3 separate regions of the Homo sapiens genome follow, and all the other regions are linked to region 2. Evidence: fine-mapped expression QTL. A gene starts in region 2. Each other region holds a variant in brackets. All regions are shown on one strand. Distances are between the middles of the regions.

The links.
Region 1: its variant is fine-mapped to the expression of MPEG1 in whole blood (INTERVAL, PIP above 0.99).
Region 3: its variant is fine-mapped to the expression of MPEG1 in whole blood (INTERVAL, PIP above 0.99).

What each region holds. Positions count from the first base shown.
Region 1 is chr11:59,159,218-59,167,402 of GRCh38, forward strand. No RefSeq gene overlaps it. Among named protein-coding and RNA genes, the nearest start is that of DTX4, 8.8 kb to the right of the region's middle. The variant CTTCT/C (reference allele first, on the strand shown) is at 3,454.
Region 2 is chr11:59,208,982-59,217,166 of GRCh38, forward strand. MPEG1 (macrophage expressed 1) reads right to left here and starts at 3,946. Exons shown (of 1, transcript NM_001039396.2): 1 at 1-3,946. The coding sequence starts at 3,884. The coding sequence ends at 1,734. It also overlaps the pseudogene RN7SL42P. RefSeq lists an enhancer at 3,923-4,122.
Region 3 is chr11:59,635,616-59,643,800 of GRCh38, forward strand. PATL1 (PAT1 homolog 1, processing body mRNA decay factor) reads right to left here. Exons shown (of 19, transcript NM_152716.3): 16 at 7,265-7,420; 17 at 3,677-3,768; 18 at 3,433-3,582; 19 at 1,101-2,796. The coding sequence ends at 2,775. Among named protein-coding and RNA genes, the nearest start is that of OSBP, 24 kb to the left of the region's middle. The variant A/G (reference allele first, on the strand shown) is at 4,886.

The sequences.
Region 1 (8,185 bases), 50 kb before region 2:
CTTCCTGCGTTATCGAATTCAGAACTCCAATTTTTATCTCCTCAGCACTGTAAGTCTTTAGGGCACTCTGCTCCACTTTTCACTGGATGACTCCAATGGGCACAAGGCATGAAACTTAGTGCCATCCTTAAGGATCTAAAGGATACAGAAATGATGCTCCCTGTCATGTATGCATTTAGTTCATCAGTTGTGGAGAATGACCATTCACTATCACAAAATCAACCAACTGGTGGGCCCAGTTGCAGCCACTGTGCCAGATGTGGAATCTTTGCTAGAGCAAATGCACATTTAATCAGGTACATGGTATGTGGCCATCAGTTGAATTAATGCATTCTCTTCTATCTCTATCAGAAAAAGGGATCATAAATAGTTCCACTCACATGGAATAGACAACAGTGTACATGTGTATTTTTGCCCCAGGACTATATTAGATATAGTGTTCCTTCTGTTATAATATAGATAGAAAAGATTTGGACTACTTGTACTTCCTTCAGACCATCACACCTGTCTACTATATCGATGTTAACATGCTAATTAGGCCAGATGGCAAGAAGTAATCAACTACCTTGGAGGTGCCGGTACACATGCATTTCAGGTGACAGGAAATAAACCCCGTGAGGAATCAGAGGCCCCCTAAATCAGGGGCATGCTAAGACCACCCATCCAAAGAAAAGGATGAATTATTGAATCTTGCATACCCCATGAAGAAAAAGAAAGTACACTGCCTGATAAATCTCTTTGGGTTCTGAAGGTAGCATATTCCATGCATGGGTATACTGTTTCAGCCAATTTACAGGGGATGCTATAGGCTGCCAGCCTTGAGTGGGGTCTGGATTAGGAAAGGGTCCCAGAAGATCCAAGCTATAGTGAAAACAGTACAGCTGCTTGGACCATGTGCCCTGGCTGACCCTCTGGTATCAGATGTGGGAAAAGATACCATGTGGAGTTGATAGCAAGCCCAAGTGGGAAAATTACAAGGCAAAGTTTTGGGGTTCTGGAGAAAGCCCGTGTTTTTTGCAGTGGATAGTTATATATCTTTTGAATAACAACTCCTTTTGAATTATATACTGTTTGAATATACCTTTTGGGCCCTGGTAGGGAGCACCTAACCATGAGACATTAAGTGACTCTGCATCCAAATCTCGCCATTTTTTAGTGAGTTCTATCAGAATTATCAAGTCATAATGTCAAGTGTGGCCAAAAAACCAGTCTCTCGTATGATGGAGTTGGAATGCCTAGCATTGTGCAGCATGAGCAGGAAAGGAGACCACAAGTGAGTTGTATGACAAATGTGTGGAGCAGGCTCCCAAAGATGTTCACACCATAATCCCTGGAATATGACCATGTAGGTTATATGGGAAAAGGGAATTAAGACCGCTAATCATCTAAGTTTAAGATAGCAAGGTTATCTTGGATATCTGGATAGCCTGATGTAAGCACGATGATTCTTAAAGGTGAGAAAAGGGAGAATCAGAGATTCAGAGGGAAACGTGACCATGAAAGAGGCACAGAGAGATGCAACACTGCTGGCTTTGAAGATGGGGGAAGGGGTCATGAACCAAGAAATGTGAGTGAGCTCTAGGAGAAAGAAAAGGCAAGGAAACAGATTCTCTTCTAAACCTTCCAGAAGAGAACTGAGCCATAATGATACCTTGATTTTAGTCCAGCGAGACCCATGTCAGGTATCTGACCTATGTAGGCCTATACATCAGCCTGGGAAACAAAGGGTAGAGGCAGGAAGGGCCCTGCTTAGCTTTATCTGTATCCCTAATAACACACTTAGGGAATTTGTGCTTCCTGTCTCTCCCTCTGCCATCCATGCCCCTGCCAGCCCCCAGGTCAGGGCTCTGTAGGATGAAAGGTCCTGATTCCCTGTGGGGGCACACTTCTGCCAGGGGACACGGAAAGAGTCCTGCTGAACTCTAAGCTATAGCTTCTGCCTGTCACTGCAAAGACTTTGTATCCAGAGACCAGTATGCAAGAAGAGTCATTGCCTGGGCTCAGGCAATTAACCCAGTTCTTCAGGAGGAGGAAGTGCTTATGTGACACAGTAAGGGCAGGGAGAAATGTGTTTGCCACTCACATGATCCATTTGGACCCTACTTGACCAAATTTGATAGTAAACAGACAATTACACCACCATAGCTTGAAAATAGCATGGCAGCCAGGGTCTCAGACCCCTCAGAAATGAAGATTTGGGTCCTGCCACCAGGTAAGACACCAATACTAGGAGAAGCATTACCTGAGGCTGAGGCTGATATAGAATGGACACCAGAGAAGGGAGAGAGTAAAAATCAGTTACATCCCCTAAATCAATTGCTGTGAGAAAAATGAGAATTCTCTCCGAAATTCCAAATAAAATAAATTCTCCCTTTATTTATTATTTTATTTATTTGAGAGAATTATCTCTCAAATTCCAGCTGTGCATTGTACCAACTGGAATTTGAAAGTGAAAAAATACCATTTATTTGAGCAATTTCCCTCCTTCCCATCCAAACTAACTTGCTGAGATTTTGATTGCATTTGCAATGAATCTGTAGAACAAGTTGGGAAGAACTGATAACTTGACAATACTGAGCCTTTCTATAAATGTACATTGACTATCTCTCCATGTATTTAGTCATTCTTTGATTTCATTTATCGGAATTTTGTAGTTTTCTTCATATAGAGCTTGTTCAGTCTTTTCAGATTTATGCCCCAGCTGTCTCTTCCCAGTGGAGTTGTATAGATAGTGCTATTTCTCCCAGCCACAATGTGTGACAATACACATGAAGTATCATCAGCCAGGGAAGCTCACCTGAGCTTCAGTGTCAGGGTTTTTACTGGGGGCTATTCATGTAGATATGGCTGACCTTAGTCTCCAGATCCTCCAGAAGTGGTGCTGATAATGTGTGGTCCAAGTCCACCACTATAAATATTAAATAAAATAGACTTCAGATCAGAGAAAATTACCAGAGACAGAGAGTGCTATTATATAATAATAAAAGGATTGATCACCTAAAAGACACAGTAATTACAGGTGTGCAAGCACAAAACAACAAAGTGACAAAATATGTTAAGCAAATCCTGATATAACTAAAAGGATAATAGGCAAATCCACAATTATAGTTAGAGAACTCAACATCCTCCTCTCTCAACAACTTATAGAACAACTATACAGAAAATCAGCCTGGATATGGAAGAACGGAACAACATGATAAACCAACAGGGTCTACTGGTCATTTATAGAACACTTCATCCAACAGTAGAGTACACATTCTTTTCAAGCACCCACAGAGTGAATACAAAGATAGATCATATCCTAGGCCATGACACAAACCTCAACAAATTTGAAAGAGTTGAAATCATATTGAGTGTGTCCTCTGGGCTACAATGGGATCAAACTAGGAATCAATAACCTAACAATAACAGAAAAACCTCCAAACATTTGAAAGCCAAACAGCACACTTCTCA[CTTCT/C]TTCTTTCTTTCTTTCTTTCTTTCTTTTTTTTTTTTTTTTTGAGACGGAGTCTCACTCTGTCACCCTGGCTGGAGTGCAGTGGTGCGATCTCGCCTCACTGCAAGCTCTGCCTCCCGGGTTCATGCCATTCTCCTGCCTCAGCCTCCCAAGGAGCTGGGACTACAGGCTCCCGCCACCACGCACAGCTAATTTTTTTTTTTGTATTTTTAGTAGAGACGGGGTTTCACCTTGTTAGCCAGGATGGTCTCGATCTCCTGACCTCATGATCCTCCCACCTCAGATAGTGCGTAGGTTAAAGAAGAAGACTCAGGAGAAATTTAAAAAGACATTGAACTGAATAAAGGTGAAAATAAAGCGTCTCAAAATTTGTGGGACACAGCCAAAGCCATGGTGAGAGGAAAATCAATAGCACTAAATGCTTACATTAGGAAAGAGGAAAAGCCTCAAACCAATAATATCAGCTTTTACTATAATAATCTAAAAAAAGAGCAAAATAGGTAGCCAAATTAAGACAATAATAAAGATAAGAGCCAAAATAAACAATGAGTTGGTTCTTTTGAAAAAAAAAATACATGAAATTGACATACTGCTTAGCGAGACTGGCAGGGAAGGAGGGAAGGAGAAAGGGAGAGGTGGGGGGAGAAAACCAAATTGCCAATAACATCAAGAATGAAGCCATGTTATCACCACAGCCCTTGAAGATATCAAAAGTATAATAAGCACACATTATGAACAACTCCACACATAAATTTGACAACTTGTATAAAATGGACCAATCCCTTAAAAAATACAAATGACCACAACTCATCCGATATGAAATAGGTAATTTGAATAGCGCTCTATTAAGGAAATTGAATTTGTAATTTAAAATCTTCTGAAAAAGACATCTCCAGGGCTAGATGCTTTTACTGGACAATTCTATCAAACTTTTAAAGAAGAATTAACACCAATTCTATACAGTCTGTTTCAGAAAATAGAAGAGGGTAGAAAACTTCCCAATTCATTTTTATGAAGCTAGTATTATTCTGATACCACCCCTCCCAAAATGAAAGTATTAAAAGACAAACTTTAGACAAATTTAATTTAACAGAATTTTACAGAGCAAAGAACAATTCGAGAATCAGGCAACTCCACAGAACTAGAATAGATTGGGAGACACTCCAACACTGCCACTTAGTTGAAGATAATTTATGGACAGAGAAAGGAAAGTAGCTTAGAGAAAATGAAAGTGAGGTATAGAAACAGCAGCCTTGTTTCTATACAATAAGAGAGCAACTCAAATATCTAGGAGGATATTAAATGTTCCCAACAAAAAGAAATGATAAATGTTTGAGGTGGACGTATATGCTAGTTACCCTGATCTGATCACTATATATTATATGTATCAAAACATCACTATGTACCCCATAAATATGTACAATCATGTGTCAATTTTAAAATACAATTTTAGAAAGTATTTTGAAATAAAAAGTTTAAAAAAGAAGAAAAAAGAAAAGAAAAGAAACAGTTGCCTTGGCTACAGCGCAGCATTTACCTTGTTTGAACACTATTGGAACAGTTGGCCTCCTGTGAGTGGTTGAAGTATTGCTTCTGTGATTGGCTGAGACTCAGGTAGTTGCTACAAAAGTAGGCTAGTCTGTTTCCACATTCGGTTAAGTTATAGTTCACTATGTATTGAGAAACGTTTAGGTTAAACTTAAAGTATGTAAGGAGGTAGCTTTAGGCTAAGCTTAATTTAACAAAAGAAAGAGAAAAGAAAACTATACACCAAGATTCTTTATAAATATAGACCACCGCCAATTTTTTTTTTTTTTTTTTTTTTTGAGACAGGCTCTTCCTCTGTCACCCAGGCTGGAGTGCAGTGGCTCATCATAGCTCACTGTAACCTTGAAATCCTGGGCTCAAGGTACCCTTTTGCCTTAACCTCTGAAGTTGGACTACAGGTATGCACCACCATGCCCAGCCCCCTGAAAACTTTAACAAATGAAATATAGCAATATTTTATAATAATTATACACTATGACAAAGTGGGGTTTATTCCAGGGATGCACATCTCATTAAGTATTTGAAAATCAATGCAATCCACCATATTAGCAGTCTGAAGAAACAAAATCTCATGATCATATCAATTGATACCAAAAAAGCATTTAATAAAACTCAATATCTGTTCATGATTTAAAAAACTCTCAGAAAAATAAGGATAGAGGAAAACTTCCTCAACTTGATAAAGAACATCTAAAATGAACACCTACAGCTATTATCACAGTTCTTAGTGAAAAACTAGATGTTATCTAAGATCAGAAACAAGGCAAGAATGTCTATTCTCACAACTGTATTAAACATAGTACTGGAAATTCCAGGTAATACAATTCTAAGTAAGGCAAGAAAAGGAAATGAAAAACATAAGGATCGGCCGGGCGCGGTGGCTCACGCCTGTAATCCCAGCACTTTGGGAGGCCAAGGCGGGCGGATCACGAGGTCAGGAGATCAAGACCATTCTGGCTAACCCAGTGAAACCCCGTCTCTACTAAAAATACAAAAAATTAGCCAGGCGTGGTGGCGGGCGCCTGTAGTCCCAGGTACTCGGGAGGCTGAGGCAGGGGAATGGCGTGAACCTGGGAGGCGGAGCTTGCAGTGAGCCGAGATTGCGTCACTGCACTCCAGCCTGGGCGACAGAGCAAGACTCCGTCTCAAAAAAAAAAAGAAAGAAAGAAAAGAAAAGAAAAGAAAAGCATAAGGATCAGAAATGAAGAAACAAAATTGTCCCTATTTGGAGATGACATGTAAACTCCTAAGGAATCTATAAAAGAACTCTTAGACCCAGATTTGGACTCCTTAGCAAGCTTACAAGATACTAAATAAACATACAAAAATCCATTGTATTTATATGTACCAGCAATAAGTACGTGGAACCAAAATTAAAAATAGAATGCCATTTATTAATATAATCACTCTGAAACAAAATGAACTACTTAAGTGTACATTGAGCAAAAAATGAACTGGATAGGTATGCTGAAAACTAGAAAACACATAAAACAAAGAAGATCTAAATAAATAGAGAAGCATATCCATATCGTGTTTATGGATTGGAAGACTTAACACAGTAAAAATATGTCAATTCTCCTCAAATTGATATACAGCTTCAATGCAATTCCTATCAAAATCCCAGCAAGAATTTTTGCACATATAGACAAGATTATTCTAGTATTTATGTGGAAATCAAAGGATCCAGAATAGCCTAAACAATTTTGAAGAAGAATAAAGTGAGATGAATCAATCTACCCAATTTACAATAAGACATTACATAGCTTATTAATACAGCTTATTAATCAACATTGTGCAGTAGTGGTGAAGGGACAGACATATAGGTCAATGGAACAGACTAGAGAAACCAGAAATAGATCTACACAAATATGCCAGACTGATTTTTTTACAAAGACTCAAAAGCAATTCAAAGGAGGAAGAAAAGCCTTTTCAACAAATAGCGCTAGGACAATACATCTATAGGCAAATAAACACATAAAAAGACACTCAAACCTCACTCCATACACAAAAATTTAACTCAGAATGGATTGTAGATTTACATGGAAGTTGTAAAAGTATGAAAGTTTTAGAACAAAACAGAGGAAAAAAATATTCAAATCTTAGGACTAGCCAAAGAGTTCTTAAAATTAACATGGGAAACAGAAGCCATTTAGAAAAAAAAAATTTGGTAAGTTGTATTTTATCAAATTAAAAAACTTTTGTTTTGTGAAAGACGCTATGAAGAGCATGGAAAACATAAGCTACAGATTGAGAAAAAATATTTTCAAACTATATATCCACCAAGAGTATTTATTTATTTATTTATTTGAGACTAGGATTCACTCTGTTGCCCAGGCTGGAGTGCAACATCACCATCACAGCTCACTGCAGCCTCAACCTCCCAGACTCAAGCGATCCTCCCACCTCAGCCTCACAAGTAGGTGAAACCACAAGCCTGCACCACCGCGGCCAGCTAATTTTTGTATTTTTTGTAGAGACAGGGTTTCCCCATGTTGCCCATGCTGATCTCCAGCTCTTGAGCTCAGGCAATCGAACTCCTGACTGGGCTTCCCAAAGTGCTAGGATTACAAGCTTGAGCCACTGTGCCCAGCCCAATATTTAGAATATAAAAAGAACTCTCTAATTTCAATAATAGAAAACAGAAACCAGCAAAAGACCTGAACAGATATCAAAGAGCATATATGGCAAATAAACGCATGGAAAGATGTTCAACATTATTAGTCAATAAGGAAACAAGTTAAAAACAATGAAATAACTCTACACACTTACCAAAATGGCTAAAATAAAATATACTGACCAAAAAATGATGGTGAAGATGTAGTGACCAGATCATGGGTATATTGCTGGTGAAAATTCAAAATGGTGCAGCCACTTTAGAAAACTGGCAGTTTGTTAAAAAAGCTAAACATGCAACTACCCTATGACCTTGCCATTGTACTCCTAGGCATTTATCACAGAGAAATGGATACTTTACCTTCACACAAAAACCTGGATGAGAGTGTTCATAGTAGCTTTATTCATAATAGCCCAAACTAGAAACAACTTATATGAACTTCCATGGATGAACAGTAAGGTGGTCCATGGATACTATGGAACACTACTTAGCAATAAAAAGAAACAAACTTCTCTTGATACACACAACTTGGATGAATCTTTAGAGAATTAAGCTGAGTGGAAAAAGC
Region 2 (8,185 bases):
CAAAGAATTCATAGGAAAGTCAGTACTTGCAGACAAGTGGTTAGCTTGGCTAAAATGTACAAAACACCCAGAACCCACAAAACACTCAGAGGTTTAGGAGAATGTTTTAATGCTTAAGAGGCAGGATCAAGTGAAGAGGTTACAGAAATCAGTGTCTCTGGCTGGGCAGTCAAGAGAGCGGGCTCAAATTCTGTGACTCACTTCTCTGTGTCTCGGTTGGAAATGAATGGGTATCCTGGTTCCCACCTTCCCACACACTGTGATACTTCAAACTCCTTGGGTGAAGGGCCTCTTCTCAGCCCAAGATCTTGATTGTGAACATTAACAAAGAGAACAGTCATCCTCCACAGAAGATAACTCATTAATGACATTTGATTCAGTGAATAAATATATCATTTAAAAAAATATTGTAGGGGGATCATGAAAGTAGTGGAGGTAATTACAATCAGGAGAGATTGGTATTAAAATTGAGCAAAGTCCCAACTCTCACCAGATGACAATTATGCATCCTGCTAGATGCCCCAGGGCTGTCAGCCTGGAACTGAAATAAATGTGTTATAAGTGGTGCTGGATGCCTTTTTCAGTTCATTTGAAAACATGGATTTGATCATGTCAGCTCCCTTTCTGCTGGAAAAAAAAGTAGTTTGCATAATTGGTGTTAACTACTCTGTTTTGATTCTACAGAGTAAGTAATACTCAAATGTGGTCTTACTTTAACTTCTTGCCTTTGTTACCCCCAGAACCATGCAGACATTGAAATGTGGTGTGCGTGTGTGTGTGTGTGTGTGTGTGTGTGTGTGTTCATATAACAGGAGGACAGGAAAGGTAAGGACCCAGAACAATGAAGACTTATTGAAATGTGGTATGTGTGTGCGTGTGTGTGTGTGTGTGTGTGTGTGTGTGTGTGTGTGTTCATATAACAGGAGGACAGGAAAGGTAATGACCATCCATGGAAGATGAAGGGGTAGTACTTAGCACCAGAATCTTTTCCAGTTTTTACCCATCTTTCATTACTCCTTGTCTCCAAATCATCCCTTCCTTAATAACTTAAAATAACTTAAAATATTTTCTGAGGACTTGATGACACCAGTCAGAAGTCCAAGAGTGGTCTGGTATAAGGGAGTGTTCATCAAGGGGCAGCTGGAAAAAGTGGAATTGGCACAGGCAACATCTTTCTTTTCAGATGTTTGAGGTCACCCAGAGGAGATAACAGTCTGTCAACATAGAGCCCTCAAAGTTAAAAAGCAGTAGCCAGGCAAGACTTGTGTCTTTTCAGGGCTCTTCCAGGCTCTAAGAGTGTGAAATTCAGACAGGTTTTTAAAAATCAAAATAAAAGGAGAGTAGTTCTTACAGGCAGAAACTCTTAGAGCTCACAAATTGGAAACAACTGCAAACTTCAGAGTAAATTCATAGCTTCCAAATACAAATGTTCACATTGTCCCTCCGCTATTTTTACACAAATGCATTCAGGTGAAGACAGCAACACACATTGGGAAAGGACATCTGCTTCCTATTTTAGTCCCAGAATCACTTTTGCTTCTAGTCCCAACTGTTCCCTCTCCCCAATCCCAACCTTATCCATGTAACAGTATGAATTTCCTGGCCCAGAGACCTAAACAAGAAGTCACGAATATACCTACTTTTGGTTGCACTTGCCATTTCAATGCTTAGGAAAACAGAGTGGTCAGCAATGACCACACTGGAGATGAGAGAAACCATTTTCGGGGAGAGATTTAAGCTGGACTCTGCCCCTGCTCTTGGTAAGTGGTGTCTCCAGTTGCTGCAGTGCCTGGAACCAAACTCTGCCTTTCCTCAATTGCCTGATATGCTTTCTTCTTGAACTTCCGGGTGCCGTAGATGGCCAAGGTGATAACAACAGCCAGAATGGTGGTGACCCCCACTGTGACCCCAGCTGCAGCCCCTCCTGACAGACCACCACCATCCCCATGGATGACATTCATGGCCCTCCGCAGCTCTATCGGTTCTCCCAGCCTCCACTGGTGGGTCTGGGAGTCTTTAATCCAGGATCTCGCATTCTCAGAATTGGTCACTATGACAGTATTGGTGGCAGCCTGACTCATGAGGGGTGGCCGGGTGAAAGGTGGGAGCCTGGCAGGGGGCAGGGACCCTCCTGTGAAGAGCCCGGATTTGACGCAATAGGACACTTGGCATCCATCGCTGATGAGGGCTGGGTGCTGGCTGAAGCCCCCGGGGCACTTTTTCAGAGACGGTGCCCCTAAATCTCTGGATATAGCAGGATCTACCAGGGGGTTCCCAACTGTGCAGCTAAAGAACCCGCCAAAGGGGACCGCAAACCTGCTTCCCAACTCATAGTCCTGAGAAACACATACCTTGAGGTTTTCAAAGAGTCTCAGTGGAAAGTAGCCGGCTGGGCATGACTGTGCATTTGTCATGGGGTTTATGCTCTTGCTGCTGAAGAGGCCCCCAAAAAGCAGTCCTGAGTTTTCAGGTACTTGGCTGCTGGCCACACACCAAAAAGCCCTAAATTCAGCTTTTGCCACCTGGAACACATCTTCACACACGGTCTTGCAGAAGACGAGGAGAGTGCACTTTCGATGACACTCCAGGTGGTTGTAACCCTCCTCGTGGATCTGGGATAACAGGTGCACCGGGGAGTAGCCAGAGGGGCAGGAGAAATCACCAGTGAGTGGATTCTTCTGCTCCAACTTTTGGCAGAGGAGGACATCCCTATTCCCTGAGAGCTGAGTGCATTCCTGATAAACCCCACCGAAAGAGAAGTTGGTCATTTTCCCCTCGCAGGAGCCATCATCCGTGTTGGCCTGAAAATTGAAGTTGGGAGAATTGAGATCTGTGCAGCCAGGGTAGGTGTTGAATGTATAATAGCGCTTCACAGCAGTTTCCACTGTCTTTGACACCTTCTTCACCAGGGGGCCTGGCAAGTCAGGTAGCATGTTGGGGTTGATGAAGAAATGCAGCGGCAGGCCAGAGCGGTCGATGGCCACCAGGTGGTTGGTGATACCCTGCTGCCAGGCCTGGAGGGTGATGCCTGGGTAAAAAGGAACCCCTCCAATGCTCTGCACCCTGGAGTTGGTTCGGTTTGAGAGGTAGCTCTTGGTGAGGACATTCTGCGAGGTATAGTTTTCCTCAAATTTGAAGTTCACGGTGTTTTGAAAGGCAAGTCCAGCAGAGGCGGTCACGGCACTACGACTGCTCTGGCTGTCTTGGAGGAAGGAGGCCCTGAGGTGGTCCTCCTGAATAAGAGCAGCCCCAGCGTCGACACTGGTGGTGACGTGGGTGCCATAGTTGAGCACCAGGAGTTCTGCCAGGTAGGTGGCCATCCTCGTCTGGTTGTTCTCTAGACGGTCAGAGATGTCAAGGAGTTCCTTCCTAAAACCTGAGCTTAGCTCTAAAGTTGGGTTGATTTTGACTGTGTAGACGAGGTTTCTTACCTGAACTCGGGTAGTTATAGCTTGGTCCTTCACTTGGAGGGTCTTCATCCTCTGGAACTCAGTGGAAAACTTGCCATTGACTTTGGAAAAAAGAGAGAGTTCTGTGTTGATGGAGTAGGAGGTGCTACTCTGGTAATTTGCCCAGGATTCCAGGATTTCTGAGTTCATCTCCAGGTTGCTCTGTTTCTGGGGAATGGTGAAGATTTCATCAGGGATGATATACTGTCCATCCTCTGTTGTCCTGCAGTTGGAGTAAGTCAATTCCATAACTCGTCCCATGTCCACATTCCGCAGATTGTCCCAGCCCCCTCCAGGTAGGACTTCCAGGACAGGTAGTTTCAAGGCATTCTTGCATTTTTGAACTCCAACTTCGTCCATCTCTCCCGAAGGCTTGCCTGATTTAGCCCATGCTGCCGCTGCCCAGAAGAGGATGGTGGCCCTGAAGTTGTTCATGGCTCAGACAGCCCCAGCCACTCACCAGCCCTACACAGCGGCCAGCAAGCTTTGGGCAAACTAAGATGGAGAAAACAGAAGCAGATGATGAAGCGGAAAACTCATGAGTTCTCTAAAAGCTACAAGTTCCTCTTTAAGCTAATTTAATGACAAAATGGGGAAACGAGAGTTGGTTGGAATATTAAAGACCATCAGGTCTTTGAAGAATTTATGCCGTACTAAACATGCAAACACACCCCTACATGCCTAACAGGTAGCTATCCTAATTTTTCCCCCAGCTCTGGCTGGTTACTCTGCTGCAGGGGTGTGCACTTAGAAAAAAATCCCGACCCCACACCCTACTGCTTCCTCCACCAGAAAGTTTGGCTTTGCTTTTTGCTCATTCTCTTGGACTTGATGTTTCATATTTTCCCTGACTGCTGTCTCTTGGGACTCCATTATCAGTTTTCTTTTACTATAAATGCAGAGGCAAATGACCACACCACCCTTACTGAAACACCCTGGCTCCACCATACCTATGCAAGCTGTTAGTCAAGGCCAACCCTGGGTTTCCTCTTTGCCTGAGGGTGGAGGCTGTTTCCACAAAAGAAAGGAGTGAAACTCTTGGACACTTGTCCTGTGGGTTTCACTGTTATGAACCATAGCAATTCTGTCTTTGGGGATGGCATTGTCTGGAGCACAGCTGACAGGGCCTGAAGAGGATTCGGTTGCAATATGCTGGGAAACCCCAATTTGCATTGTCCTAAGCATTCAAAGCGAGGGCAAGGAACTCCTACACTGTGTTGTTTTCATTCAGATAGAAATGTTCAAGACAAAACCACACTATTATCTAGATTTTGATTTATCAACAGCAGACAGGGGCCAAGGAACATATGTGTATGTGTACACACATTTATATATCCTCTGTGTGTGTGCATTTTGTATGAAGTTGGTACCTGTTATACCTTTAATTTTTTGTTCCATTGCTAAGTGTGTGTAATCAGTTTAGGTGGATAAAAAAGAATGTGGCTCTTCACTACCCAATATTTTTTCTAAAAGCAAAAATTCATTTGCTATATCATTAGAAGAATATAATTACATGAGTTTCTTTTCAAGTTCCAATGCCAGCTCTATTAGAGCCCATAATTTAAAACAATGGTGACAGGTTTGATTGAAACCCAACTCTGTTAATTCTTTGGGACAATTAGGCTATGTCTTAGTATGCTTAGTGGTAGCCAGGGAATCCAGAGGACTTAGTGAAGCTCCCAGTTGCATCCTTAACATTCCCAAGATTATACCATGAACTAGATACAGTACTGAGACTGAAAAAGTCATGTTGCAATTCACAGGTATCACTACACCATCACCTGTATGCATCCTGGAAGGAAGGTTCCAAGGAGTTGAATTCCTCTGTTGGTTATTAATGCAGCAAAGAAGTGTTTTTAGAAAGAATGAGGCTAGTTATCTTGCTTCCCAGGCTGGGCTTCACCAGTTATTATCAAAACCATGATGGTGTTCTATAAATCTAGAAATACTGCATTCCGGGTATATTTTTTTTTCCAAGACAGGGTCTTGCTTATTGCCCAGGCTTGAGTGCAGTAGCTATTCACAGGCATGGTCCCACTACTAATCAGCATAGGAGTTTTGACCTGCTCCATTTCCAACCTGGACCCGTTTAGCCCTCCTTAGGCAACCTGGTGATTTGCTCCAAGGAGGCCACCATATTGATGCTGAGCTTAGTGCAGACACCCAACTGGCATAGCACACTACAGCCCAGAACTCATGGATTCAAGCAATCCTCCCACATCAGCTTCCCAGGAATCTGGGACTGCAGTCATGCACCACCACACCTGGCCATTCTGGTTCTATTTGTGCCACAGTTATCATGCTTCTGGGAAGTGACACCAGCCACCTAAGAGGGATTAATTTATGAACCAGTGCCTAGTCTGTATTTGGCTAAAGAACCAAATCTTTGCACAGGATGTTCTAGTTAATTTATAAATCAGTTAGCCATAAATTTATACCTCAGCAGCATGATCCCAGAATTAGAAAAATGAGAGTTGAATGCCCTTGAGTACTTCCAATAAGTCTGTTGAAATACCTACATACTTCTCTTCAAACTATTTCTGGGATGGTTCATCAAAATTAGAATACTCTCACACTGCTTTGGAGACAAGCTGACAATTTGTTACCCTCTGCTTTCTCTTTAGTAGACCCTGTTGAGAGCTCACTCTCCTGAAATGAGAATACAAGCAAGGTTAATACAGACAATTCTATATTCAGGTGTTCCTATGTCTCCAGACGTCTAGTCACTGTATTTTTTATTCTATAGACTTTGTCTTCATTTTATCATAGGAAAAAAAAATTGAAAATAGCAGAAAGAGCCAACAACGGTAAAATTACATTGTACCCATAAGACAAAATATTGTATAGCCATCACAATTATTTAAAACTATTTTAATAACATGAGAAATTCTTATGCCATAATGTTACTGGAAAGGGTTCCCAATGCAGACCTCAAGAGAGAGTTCTTGGACTTTGTGCAAGAAGGACCAGGGCAAGTCCACAGAGTAAGGTGAAAGTAAGTTTATTAGAGAAGTAAAGAAACAAAAGAATGGCTACTCCATAGGCAGAGCAGAAGTATGTGCTGCTTGATTAAGGATACTTATCATTATTTCTTAATTATATGCTAAACAAGGGGTGGATTAATCATGAGTTTTCTGGGAAAGAGGTGGGCAATTCCCAGAACTAAGGGTTCCTCTCCTTTTTAGACTATACAGGGTAACTTCTGGAAATTGGCAGTCATGGCACTGGTGGAAACATCTTTTAGCATGCGAATGCACTACAATTAGTGTATAATGAACAATGAGGATGACCAGAGTTCACTCTTGTCGCCATCTTAGTTTTGGTGGGTTTTGGCTGCCTTCTTTACTGCATGCTCTTTTATCAGAAAGATCTTTGTGATCTGTATCTGTATCTTATGCCAATCTTCTATCTCATCCCATGACTTAGAATACTTAACCCTCTGGGAATGCAGCCCAGCCTTCTTTTACCCAGCCCCTATTCGAGATGGAGTTATTCTGGTTCAAATATCTCTGACAATAATGTTATGAAAAAAAAGAATGATAAACATTCAGCATGACCCCAACTATGTACATAACTAGAGGGATGTACGCCAATGCATAGACAGTAATTACATCTGGTTGAGAGGTTTTTCTAAATTATTTTAATTTTTTCCTCTTTTCTGTGTTTTTTGAGTTTTCAACAATGAGCATGTATTTATTAACTCGAGAAATTTGTATTCAGAGCCTATTAAGTACCAAACACTGATGGGTATTGGGTAATCATCACTTTTGTGCTCAGGAAAATAACCAATGCACAACCATGTAAAAAAAAAACAAAAGAAACAGGCCAGGCAGGGTGGCTCATGCCTGTAATCCCAGCACTTTGGGAATCCGAGGTGGATGGATCACTTGAGGCCGGGAGTTCAAGACCAGCCTGGCCAACATGGAGAAACCACATCTCTACTAAAAATACAAAAAAATTAGCCAGATGTAGTGGTGACACACAACTGTAATCCCAGCTACTTGGGAGGCTGAGGCAGGAGAATTGCTTGAACCCAAGAGTTCGAGGCTGCAGTGAGCCGAGATCGTGCCACTGCACTCCAGCCTGCGAGACAGAGTGAGACTGTCAAAAACACAAACAAACAAACAAACAAAAAAACTTAGTTCTGGAATTTTTATATTCCTGAAATGACCCAAAGCCTATGGATTATGTGACTGCTGTGCTCAAGGAAGTTCTCTTTCCAGTTCTCTGGGAAACAGTGAAAGGAGAAGTGCAAATGATGGGAAATTTGGCTTAACTTAATTTTACATACCAGGAGCAGAAGAACTGCTCATAACAGTCACATATGAGGAAGTGGTGACCAGTGCATTTTACCCACAACTTTTCTGTTTTATTCTGTTCACCAGAAATTTCCTTTGCTTTTTCTTGTACTGGAATGCATATGCAGTCACATAACCTCCCCAGATGGCCACACTTGAGGAGTAATGGCCTGTGGCTAACACTGATCTCTAAAAGAAAGAGGCATCTTGTCTACAAAAACTTTGCATCTGCGTTGCTGAACGGCGATTTCACTTCCTCCAAAAAGAGGCAAGAAGGAAGTCCCACATCTGCTTTCTTTCTCTGTTTGATCCCGTGCAACCTTCTGACACCATCTCATTCAGCGCCAAACCGTGATTCATATCTGAGGTTCGCTTCTGTGTGGGCTTGGAACTAATCCAGGTGTTTCCTACTTCTGCATTTCACCTGTGGTCTAAAAT
Region 3 (8,185 bases), 430 kb after region 2:
CTTTGGGAGGCCAAGGCAGAAGAATCCCTTGAGCCAGGGGTTTGAGCCCAGCCTGGGCAATGTAGCGAGACCTCATCTCTACTAAAAATCAAAAAATTTAGCTGGGCATGATGGCACCCGCCTGTAGTATTCCCAGCTACTTGGGAGGCTGAGGTGGGAGAACTGCTTGAGCCTGGGAGGTAGAGGCTGCAGTGAGCCATGATTGTGTCACTGCACTGTAACCTGGGTGACAGAGAAACTCATCTCAGAAAAAGAAGAAAACCTTCAGGCTGAGTGCAGTGATTCACACCTGTACTCCCAGCATTTTGGGGGGCCAAGGTGGGAAGATCACTTGAGCCTGGGAGTTCAAGACCAGCCTGGGCAACATAGGGAGATCCCGACTCTACAAAAAGTATAAAAATTACCCAGGTGTGGTGGTGCACACCTGTAGTCCCAGTTACTCGGGAGGCTGAGGTGGATCACTTGAGCCTGGGAGATCGAGGCTGCAGTGAGTGGTGATTGTGCTACTGTGCCACTACACTCCAGCCTGAGTGACACAGGCCCTGTCTTGAAAACAAAACCCCACTTTTTTTTGCCCCTTTCTATGTGTTTGCTGAATCTTTTATCTTGAGCATTTTAGAGTAAAAATGATACTCAAGTCTGAAATAATAAAAATAAATTCACTATAAAGAATGACCAACCTTTTCCCATCTCCTTTGAAGAGATGAGTTTTGAAATACAATATGCTCAGAACTAAGTAAATACTATCCATGAAGGCAGCTGAATGCCTCATTGGGCTACATGAGTCTCTTAAAGGGGGACAGATTCCTCAATGCCTAGAGATGGGCAGGATGGAGAAGACAAACTACAGTTTATCTACTACAATTTATAATTTTGTCGTACAGTTAAAATGGGGGGAGGAGAAACTGAAAGCATCTTAGATTTTTAAAGACAAGTTATTATATAAAAATATTTGTCTTCTTTGCAACAAAATTAAAAAGGTAAAAATATAGGTAATAATATCTTTAATCCCCTACATCAAGAAGTTGACAGTCTATCTAAATATGCTAGAAACATAAAAATCATATTCAGAGGTAACAAAGTAGAAATGCAGGCACTCATTTTTAAGTATACAATTTGTTTTTATTTACAATACCCTATAAAAATGTAAATTTAGAAACTTTTATTTTCATTAATTAGAACCAATCCAAACAAAAAAGATAAAGCACAGTAAGGAAGAGATAATAATCAAGTATTCACTTGATTGGTTGTGAAGGGAAGGTAGGAAAGGCATGTAGTGGAAATGGTCAGTAGACAACGGTAGAGGGAAGCTAGGTAACATCACTGGGGAACAGCTGGTGGAGCCTGGGGTTACAGCATGGGAAGAAATGGAGATGGAGAACAGGACAGCTGGTTTTAACAGAGGATCTTACTGTTGTACAATACATGTATGTGCAAAATGTTTATTCTCTTTAAATACCATAACCTGTCCCTCCCACCCCCCAACTACATTCGAAAAAGTAAGAACAGCAGAAAGATCACGAAGGCCATGTAAAATTAATTCAGATTTAATTTTCTTCAGGGCTGTAATCACTAGGGATCAAAACTCCTTAGTCTGGTTGATTGCTGAATGGGAGAGGAGTAAGTGAGAAAGATCATGGCAGGCTGGCCCTGCAATTATTCAAACCCAGGCCCCTGGCTGCCTGGGAACGGGACTTGGGTGAGATGAAGTAGTAAAGACAGCAGTTCTGCCCATGGTGTGGAGACTAAAAAGCAAAGCAGGCCAAACTTAGCTTCCATGGTTACATTTGGAAGTTTCTATTCATGACACCAAATAAAAGTGGGGAAGAAGGAAGCATGGCTTACTGAAGTAGTCTCAGGAAGACAGGGCAAGTGTGCAAAAAGCCACACTGCCAAAGCAGGCTACTAGTGAGGATCATCCTGGGTGACTTCGAATGCACTTGAGGGGAAAGGCTCAAGTACCCTGTAGTTGTAGCAGGAAAAAGACATAACCATGTGTTGTTTCGATTAAGGTGGACAGAAACTAAGGAAATAAAGGTGGGAAGAAGAAAAAGGACTTCTCAGCCTAGACCTGGGCATAAGCCAATTAAGAGTTCTGATTTTATTAAACGTGCTGCATACTCTTTATTTATGTTAAAACAAGTAGAACCCACCAAATTAATTACAAGATAGAACAGAAACAGATTAAAATACATCAGCTGGTTTGTGTTTAGAAGAGGTAATGAGACAACTAAATATTTTTCAATCTAAAATTCATTCTTTAAGGACCCTCTGAAGACCACATAAATACATGTATGGGGTGTGTGTGTGTGTATCTATGTGTGTGTGTATATCTTGATTTCTACTTAATTGGCTCTTCTATAGTCATATTAATATGGGGCAATGAAAAAACAACTTCAATAGGATGAGGGAAGGAATCCTTTGGCAGGCTACAATCTACTCTGAGGTGGAGTAGTGGAGGGATAAAGGGAGAGATTACACTTGTGTCTCTAGGGCAAAGAAAATGCAAAACAGAACTGAGTAAAAGTAGGACATGCAGAACTGTAACACAGAAGGTAAAGAAACCAGCAGAAGTATCACCCAGCCAAATTTCATAGAGCAGTGGGGAAATATCTGACATTTAGAGAGACAACCCCTGTAAACAGGAATCGATCCCACAAGACTTTGCTTTGGGGAAAAAGCTACCTTCCTTCCCTCATTAAAAACACTCCATTGGTGATGGCAGCAGTGCAGGTGGCAGCCAAAAGGAGGTACAGGACACATTTGGAGATCTTTTATCGTATCCCCTGAACTAGCCTAGGAGTACAAAGGAGAGAAAGGAAAATTGTATAAATGAGTTAAAACAGAAGGCAATCTTTCATATTACAGTTACATCTTTGTAAGACTTCTCATAACAAAATACCCGAGATTATTTCTCTACCCTTAGCATTTGGTCATCTTTTATGAAGGCCCTGTTGTACCCAGTTCAGTGTTTTATATCTAACAGATACACAAATAGTTAATAAAAAGTCAATCTCTTCCACCAAATTCAGTTTTATTCCCCCCTCCACCCCAATCATAACTTCTTTTTATTTATTTTTTTTGAGACAGGGTCTTGCTCTGTCACCCAGGCTGGAGTGCAGTGGCGTGATCTCAGCTCACTGCAATCTCTGTCTCCCGGGTTTAAATGATTTTCATACCTCAGCCTACCGAATAGCTGGGATTACAGGCATGCACCACCGCACTTGGCTAATTTTCGTATTTTTTTAGTAGAGACAGGGTTTCACCATTTTGGTCAGGCTGGTCTGGAACTCCTGGCCTCAAGTGATCCACCCTCCTGGGTGTCCTAAAATGCTGGGATTACAGGTGTGAGCCACCGTACCCAGCCTCCCAACCATAACTTCTAAAGTCCCAACTTTAGTGAGATGTGAAACTCTCCTGTTTCAAACTTACTGCAGTTTTGTCTCCAGCAAGTTCAGTTTCTGCCGGTCAACATAGCGAGAAAAGAGGGACACTAGGTTTGTAGGTATAGAGATTGGCTTGGCCAGGGCTGCTTGGGGAATCCGCAGAAGTTCTCGTGTTGCCATGAACATCACCTCCGTCCTGACAGGGAAGACCCATAATAATATCAGGAGAAAAAAATTTAAAAGATTACCTCAAAGAACTTAAAATAAGAGAAGAAACAGTCCACACTGACCACTGATTATTTTGTGTTGATTCTGTAGCAGGGTCTGAACTCTGTAGGTCTTCACCACGGCTCAGGAGGATGAGGAGCAGTGACAGGCCAAACTACGAGAAAAGACAGAGGGAATCAAACTCAACACTGTGTCTAAACCTCCTCCACCACTGTTGAAGGGATCCTGGCATCAGATGGGGAACAGCTCTAAATCAAAATAACCTCACTACTGTGCTTTTCTGTAAAACCAGGTAAAGATCAGACAAGCATGAGTTGAAAGGCTATGTCTCTCTCCAGGCTTTATTCTGCCATAGCAGTGACCAGGCGCAGCCAACAGAAACGGAAAGTCATGGTGTCCAACACGCCTCTCTGTTCCCCATGCTGAGGTTAAAAGATGGTTTTTCCTTGCCATGGATAATGTAGAATTTGACTTTTCTCCTATTTATGAGAACAGAAATAGGCTAAAAAAGAAAGTAAATGAAGACCAATTTTGGTACAGAAATTAAAAATCAGGAAAAAATAAGAAAAAAGCATTACAGTAAGATATTTTGAATTAAGAAACAAGGTGTAAACTGTAGGAAAATATACAAATAAACACAACTGAAATAAACATGGTATAAAGAGAAACTTTCCATTAAAAAGCACATCTCTATCTGGAAATACAAAGTCTTAGACAGAATGTTAATAAAAATCTAAAAAATAAAAAGAGAGAAAGGGTAAACAGATGTATACACCGTATCTATAATTAAAATTCAGCAACATGCTTTAGAGTATGCAATATATAAAAATGGTCAGGTGTGGTGGCTCATGCCTGTAATCCCAGCACTATGGGAGGCCAAGGTGGGTGGATGACCTGAGGTCAGGAGTTTGAGACCAGCCTGATCAAAATGGTGAAACTCCGTCTCTACTAAAAATAGAAAATTAGCCAGGCACGGTGGCACATGCCTGTAATCCCAGCTACTTGGGAGGCTGAGGCAGGAGAATTGTTGGAACCCGGGAGCTGGAGGTTGCAGTGAGCCAAGATCGCACCATTGCGCTCCAGCCTGGGCAACACGAGTGAAACTCCATCTCCAAAAAAAAAAAAAAAAGTAACATATAAAAATGTGTTTTATTTAGTGGACAGTAAAATCAGGAAATGTAGTCTTTGGGGCATAGGATTAAAATATGGGACGGGCGTGGTGGCTCATGCATGTAATCCCAGCACTTTGGGAGGCCAAGGCGGGTGGATCA[A/G]GAGGTCAGGAGATCGAGATCATCCTGGCTAACACGGTGAAACCCTGCCTCTACTAAAAAATACAAAAAATTAGCCAGGCGTGGTGGCGGGTGCCTGTAGTCCCAGCTACTCGGGAGGCTGAGGCAGGAGAATGGCTTGAACCCAGGAGGCGGAGCTTGCAGTGAGCTGCGATCGCGCCACTGCACTCCAGCCTGGGTGACAGAGCAAGACTCTATCTCAAAAGAAAAAAAAAAATGAACAGGGGGCTGGGGATGGGCATGGTGGCTCATGCCTGTAATTCCAGCACTTTGGGAGGTGGAGGCAGTACTGCTTGAGTCCAGGAGTTCGAGACCAGCCAGAGCAACATAGTGAGACCCTGTTTCTGCAAAAAATATAAAAATCAATCGGAGGCTGGGTGTGGTGGCTCACACCTGTAATCCCAGCACTTTGGGAGGCTGAGGCAGGTGGATCACGTGAGGTCAGGAGCCCCGGACCAGCCTGGCCAACATGGCAAAACCCTGTCTCTGCTAAAAACACAAACATTAGCCTGGTATGGTGGCGGGCACCTGTAATCCCAGCTACTTGGGGGCTGACGCAGGAGAACTGCTTGAACCTGGGAGGCAGGGGTTGCAGTGAGACAAGATATCGCCATTGCACTGCAGCATGAGTGACAGAGCAAGGCTCTGTCTCAAAAAAAAAAAAGTCAATCAGGCATGGTGGCACATGCTACTCAAGAGGCTGAGGTGGGAGGATCGCTTTGAGTACAGAAAGTTGAGGCTGCAATGAGCTGTGACTGTGCCACTGCACTGAAGCCTGGGTGACAGAGTGAGATCCTGTCTCAAAAAAGAAAATACAAATAGGGACAAGAAGGTTTAGGTTAAATGTATGACTCATACCTATAAATGGATCATAAAAGGAAGGCTGGCAGTACTTTGGGATTCCATTCCAACTTTCTAGACTCACTCACTTTTCCACAAAATTTCCCTTCATGGCCGGTTGCAGTAGCTCACACCTGTAATCCCAACACTTTGGGAGGTCGAGGCAGGCTGATAGCTTGAGCTCAGGAGTTTGAGACCAGCCTGGACAACATGGCGAAACCCCACCTCTACAAAAAATACACAAATTAGTTGTGCGTGGTGGCATGTGCCTGTAGTCCCATCTACTTGGGAGGCTGAGGTGGGAGGATGGCTTGAGCCCAGGAGGCAGAGGTTGCAGTGAGCCGAGATCTTGCCACTGCACTCTGGCCTGGGTGACAGAGAAGACCCTGATTTAAAAAAAAAAAATCCCTTTTCATGTTATTCTCAGAAAAAAAATACTACTGCCTTTACTAAAATTAAAACTAAGAGACCAAATAACAGAAAGGCACATTCCGGATCACTCCAGAACCCCAGAGGCACTGTCACCTCTTCTTCCTCTGATACACTGACCTTTAGAGTCATGCTTTGGTAGGTTTTCTGGTGCAAAGGAGCAAGAGGCCTTGAGACCACTTTTTCATCTCTACTGTACATAGAATGGCCCTTAATGAGTAACTACTATGTACCAGGCATTATATCGAACCACTTACAACTGTTATCTCATTTAAGTACCAGGACAACTCTATGAAGTCTACATCATCACCTCCATCTTATAGACCAGGAAACTGATTCAGCAATGTGATATCATCTGTCCAAGGTCACAAAGCTAGACAGTAGCAGGGAAGGACTAAAAATTCATATTCTTTATTTCATATTATGTTTCCCCTAGGAATCTCTGAATCTTTAAACTTGATGCAAATAAAATATGAAATGGATGATTCTACTATTCATAGTGTTATGACAGAGACTGCTAATTGCCTAATATGCCTTCCTACCCATTATCAGAACTCTTATGTGTCATGACAATGGCATAAACTAAAAGATATTTTCCAGCCTTCCCTGCACTTAGGTGTGGCCATGTGACAATGTCCTGGCTATTAACAGTAAGTAGAAGTTTCTGGTTAGAACTCCTGGAAAAGGTCTCAATAAGGAAGATGGACAGCTGGTCCACATCTTTTTGCCCTCCACATCCACCTGTCCTTCTTGATGTAAAGCTGAATCATGAATTCCACAGCCATCTTGGACCATGAGGAATAATGAACATGGAAGCCACTGGTAAGAATGGCAGAGGAAAAAAAGTGAAAAAGCCTGGATCCCTGATGACTCTGTCGAGCTACTAAATCAAATTTATTTCACACTAGACACATAAAATCCCATTTTGTTGAAAACACTGTTATTTCTAGCCGGTTACTAGGAGCTTAATGTAACTCTTGACTGAAAGAAGCCTTTTTCCCAAGTTGCTAGAGATACAGCAGCCATTATTTTAATCTATAACGCAAATTAAGACATTTCACAAAGTTCAAGGAGTTAAAAGGGCAAGATCACCTTGTTCTGGAGCACAGCAGTGAGGTGAGGATTGGAGAGTGCTGGTGTAGCTGCACTTTGAGGTAGGTTCATTAGCTGTCGCAAAAGGCTGGTGATACTCACTGATGGAAGATGATAGAGAAGGAGAGAGAAGGGACTCAGTAAGCATGGCAGCACCTACAAAAAACAAATAAAAGCATTATATCCTGGCACGTGTTACTTCAGTTACCCCCCACCAGGGGCATGGATGGAAGGATGTTCATTTGTATATTCAACCACTTAAGGCACAAGTCTGGCAGATATGACTAGAGTCTTAATAATGAATTCTAAGCTATCTACTGAGAACTTTTTCATCTCAATTTGCATTGGAAACACCATGACTTGTGTGAACCAAAGGTGTAAAAAAAAATCACTCCCAAATACATACCAAGAGTTATGCTAAAACATCAATATTTTAACTAATTCCATAAATATTTAAATGCTTACACTACACCATGGGCTAAAAACAAATGGCAAAAGGACACAGAACCTCAGGGATCTAAAGTATAGCGGAGAAGATATGGGTTAATTGGCCATTTCAATATACTGTGAGAAGCACTCCAAGATAGGTTAAAGGCCAAGCAGAAGATCACTTCAGGCCAGGAGTTCAAGACTAGTCTGGACAACGTAGTGAGACCTCATCTCTACAACAAATAAAAAAGTTTCACCTGTAGTCCCCAGCTACTCAATAGGCTGAGGTGGTAGGTTTGCTTGAGTCTAAGAGTTCAAGGTTACATTGAACTATGATTGCACAACCACATTCCGGCTTGGGTGACAGGGTGAGACCCACCCTGTCTCAAAAGAAGTGTTTTCAGATTTAATGTATTTTCTTTTATTTTTATAAAAGCTCAATGAGGAAGAAAAGAAATAATTAGCCAATTTTTATAGATTTTTAGAGAATCT